Regions from separate parts of the Homo sapiens genome. Here region 1 is linked to region 2. A link means that fine-mapping ties the variant in region 2 to the expression of a gene that starts in the linked region. Tissue or cell type: whole blood. Region 2 holds a variant in brackets; the other region holds the start of a gene. All regions are shown on one strand. Distances are from middle to middle. Region 1 holds the start of EID3 (EP300 interacting inhibitor of differentiation 3). Region 2 holds the start of TXNRD1-AS1 (TXNRD1 antisense RNA 1).

What was found.
Region 1: EID3 starts here. The variant in region 2 is fine-mapped to the expression of EID3 in whole blood (TOPMed, PIP above 0.99).

Annotation. Positions count from the first base shown.
Region 1 is chr12:104,297,308-104,306,771 of GRCh38, forward strand. It overlaps EID3 (EP300 interacting inhibitor of differentiation 3), which reads left to right and starts at 6,432. Exons shown (of 1, transcript NM_001008394.3): 1 at 6,432-7,898. The coding sequence starts at 6,628. The coding sequence ends at 7,629. The region is part of intron 4 of TXNRD1 (thioredoxin reductase 1); the gene reads left to right. RefSeq lists enhancers at 3,691-3,860, 4,399-4,568, 6,360-7,232, 6,540-6,779, 6,810-6,869 and a silencer at 6,270-6,499.
Region 2 is chr12:104,278,691-104,286,690 of GRCh38, forward strand. The region is part of intron 3 of TXNRD1 (thioredoxin reductase 1); the gene reads left to right. It overlaps TXNRD1-AS1 (TXNRD1 antisense RNA 1), which reads right to left and starts at 2,153. Exons shown (of 2, transcript XR_007063431.1): 1 at 1,594-2,153. RefSeq lists a silencer at 3,381-3,675 and an enhancer at 7,543-8,000. The variant A/C (reference allele first, on the strand shown) is at 4,478.

The sequences.
Region 1 (9,464 bases), 19 kb after region 2:
AAAAAAAAAAAAAAAGTAATATACAAACACTTGTTGACAAATAAATTTATATTTATTTATTTATTTATTTAGTTTTTGAAATGGAGTCTTGCTCTGTTGCCCAGGCTGGAGTGCACTGTGTGATCTCAGTTCACTGCAATCTCCGCCTCCTGAGTTCAAGCAATTCTCCTGCCTCAGTCTCCCGAGTAGCTGGGATTGCAGGCATGCGCCACCACGTCTGGCTAATTTTGTATTTTTAGTAGAGACAAGATTTCTCTATGTTGGTCAGGCTGGTCTCGAACTCCTGACCTCAGGTGATCCGCCTGCGTCAGCCTCCAAAAGTGCTGAGATTACAGGTGTAAGCTACCATGCCCGGCCTGATTTTGTTTTTAATGATGACAACCACTCTGTATGGCAGAGTGAGACATCTGATAGACTTCTGTTACAATTTTCGAAGAAAGTAAGTGGAAACTAATAATGCAGATATTTTTCATTTGATCCCTGAGTGGAGTTCCTAGAATGCTGCATCCTTTAGTAGCCACATACCCAGTCCTTCTTACCCTCCCTGTCTATCAAAATAACACTCCTAGTCATTGCTGCCTTTTGAGGTGTTGTGGAGGCTCTCGTAACCTGAAAGGTTGTTCTTTTCATCTCACGCCCTTATTTATATTCTTGAGGCTTGGCAAGTCAGCCAGCACTGGGTTTTTAAAGTGTCATTAAGTATATGATTTGACCACAGAGCAAGGGTGGAGATTTTATCTACTCCAAAGTATTTCAAATGAGTGAGTCCAGATTATTTAGTGAGACTCTTTTACTTCTCCAATAATAATGCCATCTTATTTGAATAAAGCAGTTATTCAAAGCCTCTTTTAGATACTAGACTTAAGAATCTGCTGAAATCTAAGGAGCTATTCCTGAGAAAAATGCACATAAATAATTTTGCATATAAACTCAGACTATTTGTGGATCTGCTTCAGAATATCTGGTACAGAGAATTACCCTTCAAAGTGTTACTGTACACACTTTGAATAGTTGAAGCCTTCGTAGGTTTTTAAAATTTTGTTATATGGCAAATTTCTTTTCACTGGTATTTGTTATAGTGGAATATATTCCTGTGTTCCTCCTTACTGATTTAACCTTTAAAAATATTTTTCTGGGGCCGGGCGCAGTGGCTCACACCTGTAATCCCAGCACTTTGGGAGGCTGAGGCAGGTGGATCACGAGATGAGGAGTTTGAGACTAGCCTGGCCAACATGGAGAAACCCCATCTCTACTAAAAATACAAAACTTAGCTGGGCGCGGTGGCACACACGTGTAATCCCAGCTACTCGGGAGGCTGAGTCAGGAGAATCACTTGAACCCGGGAGGCGGAGGTTGTAGTGAGCTGAGATCACACCATTGCACTCTAGCTTGGGCAACCAAGCGAGACTCTATCTAAAATAAAAATAAAAAATAAAAAAAATTAAATTTTTTTCTGTTCCTAAAGCAACATTCAGAAGTGAAACTACTGGTTTGTATACAGTTTTTTTTTTTACATTTGCTATCTTTGGGATTGTTTGATTTATTAAGTACCTACTCAGTAGTTGAAAACACTGTCAGATATATTACATAATTTTCATTCACTGTAGTAATTATATGGTATAAATACAGTTGTCCCTCGGTATCTTCAGGGGATTGGTTCCAGGACCCTTGTGTATACCCAAATTCATACATACTCAAGTCCCAAAGTCCACCCTGTGGAACCAGCATATATGGAAAGTCAGCTCTCTGTATTCACCGGATGTGAAACATCACATCTCACAAATACAGTATTTATTTCTTTATTTCTCACAAGCTTTTTCCTCTTTAAGGAGCAGGCAGACCTGTATTTTTTATTGCTTTTGGTATAAGTGGATCTGTGCAATTCAAAGCTGTTTCCTTCAAGGGTCAACTGCAGTAGTATTCCCGTCTTATAAATAAAGACACTGGAGGCTGAGAGGTTAAGCAAGCTGGCTAAGATAATACTAATAGGTAATAGGTCAAGATTGGAACCCAGATCGTCCCCTCCCACAGTCTGTGGTCTTTTCAGAAACTAATTTTCATTAAAAAAAAAAATACAGATATCTGTCTTATCATAGCAAAGTTCACCTTTAATAATAACAAAACACAAAATATATACACACAAACATAACTTTAAAGAAAATTACGATGAAAGAGAAACTGCCAGGCACAGTGGCTCACGCATGTAATCCCAGCATTTTGGGAGGCTGAGGCGGGCGGATCACGAGGTCAGGAGTTCGAGACCAGCCTGGTCAACATGCTGAAACCCTGTCTCTACTAAGAATACAAAAATTAGCCAGGCGTGGTGACTCGTGCCTGTAATCCCAGCTACTCGGGAGGCTGAGGCAGGAGAATCACTTGAGTCCGGGGGGTGTAGGTTGCAGTGAGCCGAGATCGTGCCATTGCACTCCAGCCTGGGTGACAAGAACAAGACTCCGTCTCAAAAAAAAAAAAAAAAAAGTTAAGATGAAAGAGAAACTATACCTAATGTCCTGCTAATTCTGGCAAATCAAACTAGGAATTTTACCACATTTCTTCACAACTCAATATTAAACAGAAGCCATGGTGGTATGAAGGGAGAAAAGCTGCTATGAAAGAAGGAACAGAAAAGTTTAGGGAGGTAGCTATTAGGATAAGTGTATATGTTAGAGTGTGGGACTCAAACCTGACTGATTCCTGGCTTTGGCTCCAAAAAGTCTCTTAAAAATCCATTTGTTATAGGTAAGTGTTAACAGCAAAACCTCACTGGAGAAAAATAGTGGACTCGTGACTTCTTCCTTTATTTGGTTACAGGGAGACATGTGACCTTTGTCATCCACCCTATCACGTTTGTGTTGAGCAGTATGGGTTGTGGGAAAGAGCTCAAGAATGCTTGGAATTAACCTAAACTCCTAGAAAAGGAACTGAAAATATAGGAGAAAAGGGTGAAGAAAAGAGGAAAGGAAATGGAGGTCTGTATTGAACCCTGGGTAGCAACTCTTGAGCGAAGAAAGAGGAAAAAGGGGAAAGAGGGGAGCTAAATTATCTCTGAGGCAACTCAGTCTCATGGTTGCCTGAACTAGTCTATACTGCGGGAATAAGGTAGACGCCACTGGTTTCTTTGAAGTACCAGTGCGCTTCTTGCTTTCTATTCCTGGTCACAGACAAATTTATCAGTAGTGCAGTTTCTTCTTTTTAAGCTTCATTTAAATAATTATTAGTAGCACTTGGACCTTAGGTTAGGAAATCACTGTTTAATGACTTAAAGATTAACCGGCATGGAAATCCCATTCTTTATATGATTGGGGAGAGTTATTGAACTTGAGATTGTTTTACTTTGTAGCAATGTCTAAAGGCAGATTTGTTTTGTTTTGTTTTGTTTTTGAGGCGGGGTTTCGCTCTTGTTGCCCAGGCTGGAGTGCAATGGTGCAATCTTGTCTCACCCGCAACCTCTGCCTCCCAGGTTGAAGTAGCAGGGATTACAGGCATGTGCCACCACGCCCAGCTAATTTTCTATTTTTAGTAGAGACGTGGTTTCTCCATATTGATCAGGCTGGTCTCAAACTCCTGACCTCAGGTGAGCCACCCACCTCGGCCTCCCAAAGTGCTGGGATTACAGGTGTCAGCCACCGCACCTGGCCTAAAGGCAGATTTTTAAAGGTGGAACATAATGCAAGTCTGCCTTTCTTAGGATGATCTAAGTTACATGTTAATAAAGTTCTTGGAGATCTAGCATAGAATGCATTCAGCACTGTAAATCACAACTTAATGTTTGCCTCGATATGCTCTGTTGCTCTGAGCAAGTTGTGTGGGCTGTTATCTCCTGAGAAATCCCTGTAAATGGTATTAGTAATACTTTATAAGCAGGTTGGGAGAATATAGTTTTCTAAGGCATTTTGAAATTCTTAGATGAAAGGGTCTTTATGTAGCAAATTGGTGTCAGCCTATTTTCCTTCCTCTGAGCCAGAAGAAAATAGGCACCATAGGGTGGGAAGGGTTGGCTTATCTGTTAGAGTTCTTTTGTAAGTAGCTTTTGTTGAATTTTTTTTTTGAGATGGAGTCTCGCTCTGTCGCCCAGGCTGGAGTGCAGTGGCGCGATCTTGGCTCACTGCAAGCTCCGTCTCCTGGGTTCAGGCTAGTCTCCTGCCTCAGCCTCCAGAGTAGCTGGGACTACAGGCGCCTGCAACCACGCCCGGCTAATTTTTTGTATTTTTAGTAGAGACGGGGTTTCACCGTGTTAGCCAGGACGGTCTTGATCTCCTGACCTCGTGATCCGCCCGCCTCAGCCTCCCAAAGTGCTGGGATTACAGGCGTGAGCCACCGTGCCCGGCTGCTTTTGTTGAATTTAAAGTGGATGTGAGAAGCTCCTAAGAATATCGTTCACTGTAAAAGCAGACTTTTTTGGATTTGGGTCTTGGAATTCTTAACTGTATTTTCACCTAAGATTTAAAACAAGTTCAAATACTAGTTTGTAATTGGCCAGACTAGGGACAGATACGATCCTTGAATGATCCTGGGTCTCAACTTACCTTTCTTTCATTTTTCCTTTATTTTAGAAGAGGGATAAGAACTTTTTCTGAAGAGCAGTCAACTTTTCCTTTCAGTGTGTAGGATTAATTCCACGAATCTGTGAACTTAAATCTTTGCTGCCAAATAACTTGCAGTAGATGCTGGGATAGTTTTAAATCTATTTTAAGTTATACATTCAGTACATAAGTGCATCTCCGTGTAAAAACAGCTATGTTTGGAAGATCTAAAACGCAGCTTTTGTTTTTGAGAAGCCAACAATCTAATAGGGTAGGATCATATATATGTACAACTAACCGTAATGCATGGTGTTTTGAAAAATGCACGTATCTCCCTGAATTACCCCTAGTTAATAAAATAATTGGGAGCAAATGGTAATATAAGGATTTTGGAGTAACTTAATACTACTAGATTTTGCTGTTTATACATTTACAAAAAACTTTCTGCTAATGCTAAAGAAATAGAACAAGTCTATATGCATAAAGGAAGGTAGGGCTAATTTACTTCCTGGTGCTATGAAACTGGCAATTGGACAGGTGCAATTGTGGGTGTCTTTTTTTTTTTAAGGTGTACCTGTTGCAGGTTTGAAAAGCTGTTGATGCTCATGGGTTGTTTGTGTGCATGTTCTCTTTAAAAACCAGATGTATTCATTCCCTTTTTTTTTTTTTTTTTTTTTGAGACGGAGTCTCGCTCTATAGCCCAGGCTGGAGTGCAGTGGCCCGATCTCGGCTCACTGCAAACTCCGCCTCCTGGGTTCACGCCATTCTTCTGCCTCAGCCTACCGAGTAGCTGGGACTATAGGCGCCTGCCACCGCGCCCGGCTAATTTTTTGTAGTTTTAGTAGAGACGGGGTTTCACCGGGTTAGCCAAGATGGTCTCGATCTCCTGACCTCGTGATCCGCCCGCCTCGGCCTCCCAAAGTGCTGGGATTGCAGGCGTGAGCCACCGCGCCCGGCCATTCCCATTGTTATGTATACTTTGCTATTTGCTGCTGGTGAGACAGATAAGGAGTCACGTCTTTAACTGCACTTGAGTTTCCAGTGACCCCATTAAATCCAATGGGTAAATTTTCCCACGCAGATTACTCACCCAGTTTACAGATTAAGCTTTCATATCCTTAGACTGTATCTGAAATTTTCATAGCTTTGCCCACCTTTTAGGGTTCAGAGTTACTACCCATTCAGTGTCGGTGGCCTTTAGCTGTTGGCAAGCTTCCAAGTAAATAGCTCTTTTGCAGAGATCTCTACCCATTCTATTCTTCCACTCCTGGGTAGTGGAGAACCAAAGTTCACCTGAGTAATGCCCGTGCCCAGCACCCAGTTTCCTGCAGGGGTTAGCACGGATATTGGAGGCTCCCCCGATCCCACAGATACTCAGGATGGGTATTGGAGGGGGCTTGGTTTTTAAGAGGACATGTGAAAGTAATTAACCCGATTTACATTTGTATAATGAGTCCAAACACCACCTTGCAAAAGAACTGAGAGTTTAGCCTGCTTAATGGAGTTTCTGCTTTTCACGGTCCTTGGCCTTACCGACGGTTTACAGTCCAGCCAGATTTAGTTCACAAAAAACCAAAACCAGGTCGACCTCACTGCAGTATATGATGGCAGCGAGCGTTTTAAAGCGCAGGACCTTTAGTCTCCTCAATAGTTTTGTGTAAAGTTGTCCAAAAGTGTTTTTTTTTAAAGTGAGGTGATCCAGTCGGTAAACGCTTTGAAAAAGAATAGCTGTCCCCTGAGCGGGCATTAGTCGCGTGTGAGGTCAGGGCCCATCATTGCGCGTGTTGGGAGCGCCGCGCTGGTCTATGAGCGAGCGCCTCGGCTTGTGGCTGGGCCGGGCCGGGGCGGGGCTGTCTTCCCGCGGAGCGTGCTGGGGGCGGGTCGCGCCGGGCCGGGCCGCTAGTGCGCATGGGCGGGCGTCCTCGGCTCTAACTGCCGCCACTTTCCACACGCTGGGAGGGCCGTTACCTCAGAGATACCCGTGGCCGGCATGTTGGTTGAAAAAGCTTCCCGGAAGGGAGACGAAGAGAAAGGAGAGGAGCAGCTCGTGATCATCCCCGGTAGCGAGTACGCGGCGAAGTAGGCGGCGGCGGAGGGAGCGCTGATGAAGATGGATGTGTCAGTGAGGGCCGCGGGCTGCTCCGACGACCTCAGCTCTGGGGAGGCCGACGTAGACCCAAAGCTCCTGGAGCTCACCGCTGACGAGGAGAAGTGCCGCAGCATCCGCAGGCAGTACCGGCAGCTCATGTACTGCGTGCGGCAGAACCGGGAGGACATCGTGAGCTCGGCGAACAACTCCTTAACCGAGGCTCTGGAGGAAGCCAACGTCCTCTTTGATGGCGTGAGCCGAACCAGAGAAGCAGCCCTCGACGCCCGGTTTCTTGTTATGGCTTCTGATTTGGGTAAAGAAAAGGCAAAGCAGTTAAACTCAGATATGAACTTCTTTAATCAGTTAGCATTTTGTGACTTTCTGTTTCTGTTCGTGGGTCTGAATTGGATGGAAGGCGATCCTGACAAGTTGAGTGATTGTGATGATAGCATAGCTCTTTCCTTCTGGAAGGCAATAGAAAAGGAAGCAACATCCTGGATGGTAAAAGCTGAGACATTCCATTTTGTTTTTGGTTCATTCAAGCTAGAACGTTCTGCACCAAAGCCCCGACTTGAACACCAGAAAAAAGTTCGCAAGATGGAAGAAAATGGCAACATGCCTACAAAGTTGCAGAAGTTGGACCTGAGTAGTTATCCAGAAGCGACAGAAAAAAACGTAGAAAGGATTTTGGGATTGTTGCAAACCTACTTTCGAAAGTATCCTGATACTCCTGTGTCCTATTTTGAGTTTGTGATTGATCCAAACTCTTTTTCTCGTACTGTGGAGAATATATTTTATGTTTCTTTTATTGTAAGAGATGGTTTTGCAAGAATAAGGCTTGATGAAGACAGGCTGCCAATATTAGAGCCGATGAATGTTAACCAAATGGGTGAGGGAAATGATTCCAGTTGCCATGGCAGGAAACAGGGAGTTATATCTTTGACTTTACAGGAGTGGAAAAACATTGTGGCAGCTTTTGAAATTTCTGAGGCTATGATTACATACTCCTCATACTAAAGATTTCTTAGTATAGCATCCTTTTTGTGTTTTTTTTCTGAAGTTAGATGGAGAGTAAAATGTAAACTGAAGCACATATTGTATCTCTTGTAAAGTGAAAAAGTATTTTCAAGAACATCAGACATTGTTTTACTGTGCAGCATATTTTTCTTAGTAATTTATAAGGTCATGATCTTCTGTTATTAAAACAAATTCACTGGCATATTTATGGGAACGTTTTATTGAATGCCCTTTAAGACTATTAATAAAAACAAGTTTTGGATACCAAATTAAGGGATATTTGATAATTTGCAAAACATAATAATTTACGAAAATCAGTGATGATGCTCTGTGATGCGTTGCTTTCTCTGTCATAGGGAACCAAGAGAATCCCAGAAAGGGTTCCTAACCAGGTTGGGCAAAGAGTGGGTAAAAAACAAAAGTTAAAAAAAAAAACCTGTCTGTAAGGCAGTGAATATGCAACATTAAGACTAAAAAAGTCATTGCAAGGAAGACTTAGGATTTATGAGTGAGTATCCATATTCTAAACAATTTCTGTTATTGTACTCAGCAAAAGTAGTGTCTCTGCTGTAGTAGTTGAGGTATCAGCTAAGGGTGAAAGGTGAGTAGAAACACGAAGAAGGAAAAGGCATTCTAGGCAAGAGAATAGCAAGGTCAAATGCATGGAATTGTTAGAAGTTAGGCACGAGAGGACCATTAGATTTATGGAAAAACTATTATATTTGATAAGCTGGGCAACAATTGAATAACTTCATCTATTAATATCCTGAGAAGATGTTTTTGTCAAACTATTATACATTGAACACAAGATCTTGCTATCCAGTTGTAGTTTTTATCTACTGAATTTCTTCTCTGGCCCCTAGTGTCCCTTTGTGGTCTTTGCTAGTACATAGAATGTCCTTCACAATCTACGCTTTTTCATCATGTAACAACTTTGAATATTTGTCCCACTTTAATTTTGCATTTCTATCTTTTTTTTTCCCCCTCGAGACAGAGTATCACTCTTGCCCAGGCTGGGGTGCAGTGGTGCAATCTCGGCCCACTGCAACCTCTGCCTGCGGGGTTCAGGCGATTCTTGTGCCTCAGCCTCCCAAGTAGCCGGGATTACAGGTGTGTGCCATCACACCCAGCAAATACTTGTATTTTTAGTAGGAACAGAGTTTCGCCATGGTAGCCAGGCTGGTCTCGAACACCTGGCCCCAAGTGATCCACCCGCCTCGGCCTCCGGAAATGCTGGGATTACAAGTGTGAGCCAAATTTTGCATTTCTTAATAGGGCTTTAAATGCCAGGAAACTGACCTTGCTGAAACTAAAACATGTTAGTTTATCTGGATGTTCTTCACTTAGTGTAAAGCCATAAAGGCTTTTTTCTTTCCGTTGCATAAATTACAACCTTATTTGGAGATTATTGCCAAAAGTTTGGGTCATTAAGAAAGTAACTTGAGAAGGTGCAGTAAGCATACCCATAAGCTTTCTTCCCCTTGATCCCTATAGGAGCTTAATTTTTGGTAGTCGTGGAATTTTGCCATTAAACAATACTTTGGCAAATGTTTAGGTATCTGTTATGCATAGCAGTGGCAAACTTTCCTAGTAAGTCTAGTGGTACAGGAAAGGGAAATCCAAAGACTCAACAAATGACACCAAGACTGAGAGGAAGGATTTTTCATGTATGGAGATGAGGTTCTTCACCAATAATAGAGTAGAGGTTTTAGCAAAAATAGAACTTTCTCATGAAACTTGGCAAATTATTTTCTAAATTAGTTACTCCTTTCACATATGAAAGAGCGCTGACCCTTGCTAGTGTCTAGTATCCTTTGATTTATAGTAGCAGTCAT
Region 2 (8,000 bases):
CAGGGTTTCACCACGTTGGCCAGGCTGGTCTTGATCTCCTGACCTCGTGATCCGCCCGCCTCGGCCTCCCAAAGTGTTGGGATTACAGGCGTGAGCCACCGCACCCAGCCTCTGATCAAATTCTTAAAGGCCAAATTACCTTTATAAAACTGAGGACCCCCTAACATTTACCTTGTAAAAGCTTTTTTTTCTCCTTTTCTCTGTGAAAAAGATGGAATATACAAATTAACTAAGTAATATCTGCATTTTTACAGATTTAATCTCTCAACAATTATTTATTGATCAATTACTATGTGTGCATACTATATTAAGTGCTGGGAACATGATGGTGAGCATAACTAATCCTGGTCCCTGCTCACATGTGGCTATGTACATCTATATTAATTAAACTTAAATAACATTAGAACTTCACATCCACACCTGTACTAGCCATCTTTTATGTACTTAATAGTCACATGTGGTGAGTGGCTATTGGGTTGGACAGTGTAGATTTAGAATATTTTCATCACCACAGAAAGTCCTCTTGGACTGTGCTATTCTAGAGTGAGGGAGGTGGACATTGATCAAATACTCATAAAAGTATGATTGCAATTGTAGTAAGTACTAGGCAGAAAGAATAGATGGTAACATGAGAACATTTCATAGGGGGATTTGACTTCTCTGTTGGTTTTCCCAAGGAAAACCTGTTCAAACTAGATTTGCTCAATGCTTGGAAGTTAGCAAAGCCCTGTGGTGGGAGGGAGGACAGTAATTACAGGGACTGAAAGCAAGCTAATGACTGAATCATGGGGATTGAGGAGAAGTTTGGGTGAGATGAAGGGGTGGAAGGACCACAAAGGGCCTTGTAGAAAGAAGATGAAGAAGCAGAGAGGCTTAGTAACTTGGCTTTGCAGTTAGTAATAGAACCTGGATTTGACTTCAAAGTCTACACTGCATAATAAGGGTATATTCAACAGACTTTGGTTCTGCAATTATCTCTTTTTGCTCCTTCTTTGGAAATTGCCAAAGTTCCCTCTACTGGATTATTCCTTTAGCATAAAAACATGCTGTAATAATTTCCTTCTTAGACAAACCAAAAAAACCAAAAAGTCTGGCCAGGCACGGTGGCTCACCCCTGTAATCCCAGCACTTTGGGAGGCCGAGGAGGGTGGATCACGAAGTCAGGAGTTGAAGACCAGCCTGGCCAACATGGTGAAACCCTCTCTCTACTGAAAATACAAAAATTAGCTGGGTGTGGTGGCATGCACCTGTAGTCCCAGCTACTCGAGAGGCTGAGGCAGGAGAATTGCTTGAACCCAGGAGGCAGAGGTTGCAATGAGCTGAGATCGTGCCTCTGCACTCCAGCCTGGGTGACAGAGTGAGACTCTGTCTCAAAAAAAAAAAAAAAAAAAAATTCCTCTATCCTACATCCCTCTTTAGCTCCTTTCCTATTGTTGTTTTGTTTTGTTTTGTTTTTATAGCAAAACCCCTTTAAGAGTTGCCTATACTTACTCCCTCCATTTCCTTATTTTCTGTTTCTTGCTGAACTTCTTCTAATTAGGATTTCTTACCTACCACCATTTTCATAAGTGACCTCCATGACTCAGCCCTTACCTTATAGGATTTCTTGGCAGTGCTTGAAATAGTTGATCTTCCTTTTTGGAGCACTTCTTCATTGGCTTCTGAGACACCACACAGTCTTGGTTTTCCTCCTACCTCCTGCCAGCTCCTTCTTAGGCTCCATTGCTGGGTTCTTTTCCCCTTTTGCAGTTTGAGCGTGCCAGGGCTCTGTCCTGGGCCATCTTTATTTCTCTAAATACATTAACTCCTGGGTAATTTCATCTAGTCCCATGGAGTGACAGTTAATTTTATGTGTCAACTTGGCTAGCATACGGTGCCCAGTTGTTTGGCAGATAAAAGCATAGATGTTGCTGTGAAGGTATTTTTTAGATGTGACTTACAATGAAATCAGTAGGCTTTGAGTAAAGCTAGTGACCCTCCATAATGTGGATGGGCTTCATCCAATTAGTTGAAGACCTTAGAGAAAAGATGGAGGTTTCCCAAAGAGGAAGCAATTCTGCACCCAGACCACCGTTAGTCTCAAGATTGCCACATCAATGCCTGCTTGAATTTCCAGCCTATCAGCCAGCCTTGGAGTTTTCAGACTTATCAGCCCTCACAACTGTGTGAGTCAATTCTTTAAAAAAAAGAAAAGAAAAAAATCTCTCTATATATACATGTATCCTATTGGTTCTGTTTCTCTGAAGAGCTGTGACTAATACACATGGTATTAAATATCTTTTATGTTTGACACCAAATGTTTATTTCTAGCCTTGACTTCTCCCTTGAACTCCATACTTACATATCCAACTGCTTAGTCAACCTCTCCATTTGGATAATAATAGATCTGTTAACCCATACTATGGATTTGTCCCAAACTATTGTTTTCCCCCACCTCCCATCTTTCTTCCTCCTCTCTGGGTGTTCCTGCTTTTCATTGAAGAGTGCTATTATTTACCCCATTGCTAAAGCCAGAAATCTAGCGTTATCATTGATTCTCTTTCTCTTACATCTCTTATTCCATCCATCTGTACAACTGTACAACATATATCTGTGCAATTAGCTTTACCTTCAAATGTATTTTTTAACCTCACTAATCAGCCTTTATCATCTCTAGCTTGGACCAGGACAGTAACTTCCTAGCAGGTCTGTATATCTCCATATCTCCACTTTTTTTTTTTTTTTTTTTCTTTTTGAGATGGAGTCTCACTGTGTCGCCCGGGCTGGAGTGCAGTGGTGGGATCTCGGCTCACTGCAAACTCCGCCTCCCGGGTTCACGCCATTCTCCTGCCTCAGCCTCCCCAGTAGCTGGGACTACAGGCGCCTGCTACCACGCCCGGTTAATTTTTTGTATTTTTAGTAGAGATGGGGTTTCACTGTGTTAGCCAGGCTCATCTCAATCTCCTGACCTCGTGATCCGCCCGCCTCAGCCTCCTGAAGTGCTGGGATTACAGACATGAGCCACCGAGCCCGGCCATATCTCCACTTTTAAGTCCCTGCCCTCCTTAGCCTATTTTCCACACAACTGAGCAATTATTTTATCATACAACAATCATTTCCTTCTCTTCTCTTCACACTCTGGCATCTTACCACATTTAAAATGAAATCCAAAATCCTGACTATGGCCTGATGATGGATGTGACCCCTGGCTATTCCTCTGACCTCACTTCCTACCACTTTTTTTCTCACTCATTAGGCTTTAGACATACTGGTTACTTTGTGGATTCTTGGATAAGTCAAGCAGACTCCTAGCTTAGGGCTTTAGTATGTTGAAGCCAGAATAAAAATGTGAGACAAGTCTCTAAATTAAAATTTTTTATTTGGAAAGAAAGAATAGCAATTTGGGGCATATATGCAGACAGGGTGGTCTTCAGTATGTCTGAAGAACAAAGAGAAGGTTAGAGGTTTTAGAAACAGGAGAGCTGTTACATATTGCTCTTCAAGAAAGTTCTTTGGGACTAGTTAGGGTTTGGGGAGCTAGCAAGCTCTGGTGAGTGATGGCAGTGGGCAAAATTAGTCCTAGAGTTTCAGCAAGTTCTCTTAGCATTTATAGATAAAGCTGGTCTCAGGTTACAACAGGCAGTTTCAGCAGTCAGGCTTGCAGAGAATTACATTCTTGGAGCAATGTTTTGTACCCTGAGTGCTTTTCCCCCTAGCCCCTTGGCTCTGATTTAATTGGGAATGACAAGAATGACCCAATTTTATGATCAGCTTTCACAAGTACCTCCTCTTTCCTCTGCTTAGAAAGATTTCTTCCCTAGGTACTCTCATGGCCTGTTCCCTCATAGCACTGTGGGCTCTGCTCAAGCATCACATTCTGAGATCTTTCCTGACTTCCCTACCCTACTTTATTCTTCTTCAAGGTACAAAGAACTCTTTCAGAAAAGCTTTGTGTGTGTGTGTGAAGGAGAGCAATGAAATGGGGTGGTGGTAACTGCAAGGGTTGGGGCACATGGGATCATGAGAGCCTTTTCTTTCTTTTTGGGAACAGTTTTGCTCTGTCATCCAGGCTGAAGAGCAGTGGCATGATCATGGCTTACTGCAGCCTCAAACTCCTGGGCTCAAGTGATCCTCCCACCTCAGCTTTCCAAGTAGCTAGGACTACAGGCAGGTACCACCACACCTGGCTGACTTTTATAATTTTTTTTGTAGAGACAAGGTCTTGCTATGTTGTACACACTAGTCTTGAACTGCTGGCCTGAAGCAATCCTCCTGCCTCAGCCTCCCAACATGCTGGGATTACAAGTGTAAGTTACTGCACCAGGTCGGGAGGCTTTTTTAAAATGGTAAAACAACAATGCATTTGTATGATGATGTAAATGATCAGGTAGAGAACAAGCAATTGATGATGCCAGAGAGGGAGGCTAACTTCAAGAGTGATGTTCATTAATATTAAGAAGGAAATAAAAGATGAGAATCCATACACAAGTGAAGTTGG[A/C]CTTCACTATTCTCCACATAACAGCAATTCTTTGAATGTACAACAATCATTTCCTTCTCTTCTCTTCACACTGTCTTTTTTGTTTTTGTTTTTGTTTTTTTGAGACGGAGTCTTGCTCTTGTTGTCCAGGCTGGAGTACAATGGCATGATCTCGGCTCACCGCAACTTCCGTCTCCTGGGTTCAAGCGATTCTCCTGCCTCAACCTCCTGAGTAGCTGAGATTACAGGCGCCCACCACCATGCCCAGCTAATTTTTGTATTTTTAGTAGAGACGGGGTTTCACCATGTTGGCCAGGCTGGCCTCGCACTCCTGACCTCGTAATCCACCTGCCTCCGCCTCCCAAAGTGTTGGGATTTCAGCCGTGAGCCATTGCACCCGGCCTCACACTCTGGCTTCTTAACACATTTAAAATGAAATCCAGGCTGGGTGCAGTGGCTCACACCTGTAATCCCAGCACTTTGGGAGGCCGAGGCAGGCGGATCACCTGTAGTTGGGAGTTGGAGGCCAGCCTGACCAACATGGAGAAACCCCGTCTATACTAAAAATACAAAATTAGCCAGGCGTGGTGGCACATGCCTATAATCCCATCTACTCAGGAGGCTGAGGCAGGAGAATCACTGGAACCTGAGAGGCGGAGGCTGCGGTGAGCCGAGATAGTGCCATTGCCCTCCAGCCAGGGCAACAAGAACAAAACTCTCTCTCTCAAAATAAATAAATAAATAAAAATAAAATGAAATCCAAAATCCTGACTGTGGCCTGATAATGGGTCTGACCTCTGGCTACTCCTGACTTCACTACCTACCACTTTTTTTCTCATCAGGAAATAATAAGAGTGAAGGCAGAGAATATGGCAGCTTGCTGGTTAAGGGAGTTCTGTCTGATTGATGCTATTTTCTTAAAGTAGAAAGTAGGTCATGAGCTAATGCAAGGTGTAGGGGCATTAGAAGTTTGAGGAAAGAGGGATACGTGTGAAATGGTCATTTTGGATCCTGAGAAAACAAATATTCCAGGGATGCAAAGGATTGCTGGGCAACCTTGAGGATACATTTGAAGTTTGTGGTCTTAACTTTAAAGTGAAATCACTTTTAATTTCTGTGTTTCCTTCAGCAATGTTTCCTGCTTTAAGTGGAGTACAGAATATGTGGACAGCTAGGTTCAGCAAGGGTGGGCCTTGCCATGTCAACGCGACTGAGAAGCTTGGACTTCATATTGAGGGCCCTAGAGAGCTACTGAAGGTTTGAGTAAAGAAGATTTAGGTGTTAGAAAGATCATTCTAGCTCAGTATGGTGTGTGTGTGTGTATGAGAGAAAGGCTTATTATAGGTAGAACAGTAGTTTAATACAATAGGAGCCTTTATCAAACACCTGCATAAATTTGTTATAGCTTAGATGACAGTTCAGGAACATAGAGAGGTCTATTTCCAGCATTTTCTGAGTACCTACTATATACCAGATTCTGTAAAGACAAAATAAACAAGGGTTTGCCTATCCAAAGCTCTTGTAGAAGATTTGTAATTATTATTAGGTATTTGGGGGACAAAGAAGAGGGAAGGAGCAATTAACACTGGGTGAAAATCCAGGAAGACTCCCAGAGGAGGTGACATTTCAGATGAGCTTTGAAGGACTAGGCCCTTAGGGAGGGAAGATAATTCTGAAAAGGAAGAATGAGCCCAGTCAAGAGATGCGAAATGTATGATTAAAACATTTTATGTTTATGATTTGCTACGGCCAGGCACAGTGGCTCACACCTGTAATCCCAGCACTTTGGGAGGCTGAAGCAGACGGATCCCTTGAGGCTAGGAGTTTGACCATCCTGGCCAACGTGTTGAAACCCCATTTCTACTAAAAATACAAAAAATTAGCCAGGTGTGGTGGTGCATGCCTGTAGTCCCAGCTACTTGGGAGGCTGAGGCATGAGAATCGCTGGAAGCAGGGAGGTGGAGGTTGCAGTGAGCTGAGATGCGCCACTGCACTCCAGCCAGAGCAACAGAGCAAGAGACTGTCAAACAAACAAACAAACAAACAAATAAATAAATAAATTGCTGCATGATGAGAAATGGTGGAAGAAGATGAGGTTCTTCTTCCATTAACCAGCAACTAAATAGAACTAAGGAGTTTTTCCTCTAGAATTCACGACAAGGGTAAGGCATCTGGGCTCTTAACAGCAGCAAGAAGGATTTGAAAGAAAAGAAGATGGTTTTAAAATGGTGATTTTAATTTAAAGAAAAATAACTACATGGTGCTACTCTGGGCATCTTTGCTATAATTTGCTCACTTAGGAACAATGTGAAGTTAAAATGCCTTATCTAGCCTGTTTTGGAATGCCGTTAGAAAATATTAATTATAATCACTCTGAGCTGTCTATACAAGATGCTTTTAATGGCAAGCCTCTTCAAATCAATCCTTATTACTTGCTTTTAGTACATTATTTCAAGTTAAATGATCCTTCTGTGTCCTAAGTCATGCTTTTGAAATAAGGTGTATTTTCAATATATTTCTAAGAATGAGGAGTTTATGACCCTGGTTCATGGGTCATTCGGTAGACTAAATGAGATAAAGGCATATAAAATTATTAATACAGAACTTGGCTTGGGAGCCAGGAGTAAATGTTTTTTGTTCTCCCTTAGACCCAGTCTTTTCATGTTTTTCCTTCTTTCCTCCTTAAATCACATTGTTTCCTCAACACCCACGTACTAGATCCATTCTCTGTTCTAGGGACTCCAGAATCAGGTGAAACACTCATGTCAATAATCAAACACTCATGTCAATAATCACCTTACAGGGGAAGTGTCAAGTTAGTGTGTGTAGTGTGTGTGTGTGCCCATTTAGAGGGTGAAGAAGCTAAATCAAGCCTCTGAGTTTCACCTTGGAAGGGCCTGGCAGGACCTGGCAGTGGTTGCCTGTTTGTTTAGAGGGAGTGTGGCTTCTGCTGGCTGTTAGGAGCCCGCAACGCTCTCAGCTGAGAGTGCTTCAATCTGGCATTATCCAAAGAAGTGGGAAAGACATTCCTTCCTTCCTTCCTTCATTCAGTTATTATGTATTTATTCAGCAAATATTCATAGCCTGCTAGTGCACAGTGCTGAATAAGAACATGAGTAAGAGCAGGGAAGCATGAGAGAGCATGGCTCACCTTAGTAGCTGCAGGTGGCTGGGTGCAGCTGGAGTTAAAAGACACTCTGAGTTTTTCTTAAAAAAAACAATAAATACCAAACTTAGAATCTAATAAGGAAGAGGTGCTCTCAGGGGAAGTTAGGTGTGTTCCTAAGAATTTGTCATTTCTTTTCAGGATTAGTCAGGATGAACTAGACATTTCTTTTCAAAAGCCTAATAACTTCCTTTAGGGAACTGCCAAACTGACTAATCCATGACCTTAAGGCAGTGGGTCCCAAACTTTGCTGCCAACTCAATCACCTTTGGAGTTTTTTTTTTTTTTTTAAACGCAGAGGCCCAGGTCACACTCCACACCAATGACATCAGAATGTCTAGGGGTGGGAGCCAGGCACCAGGATTCTAAAGACCCTCA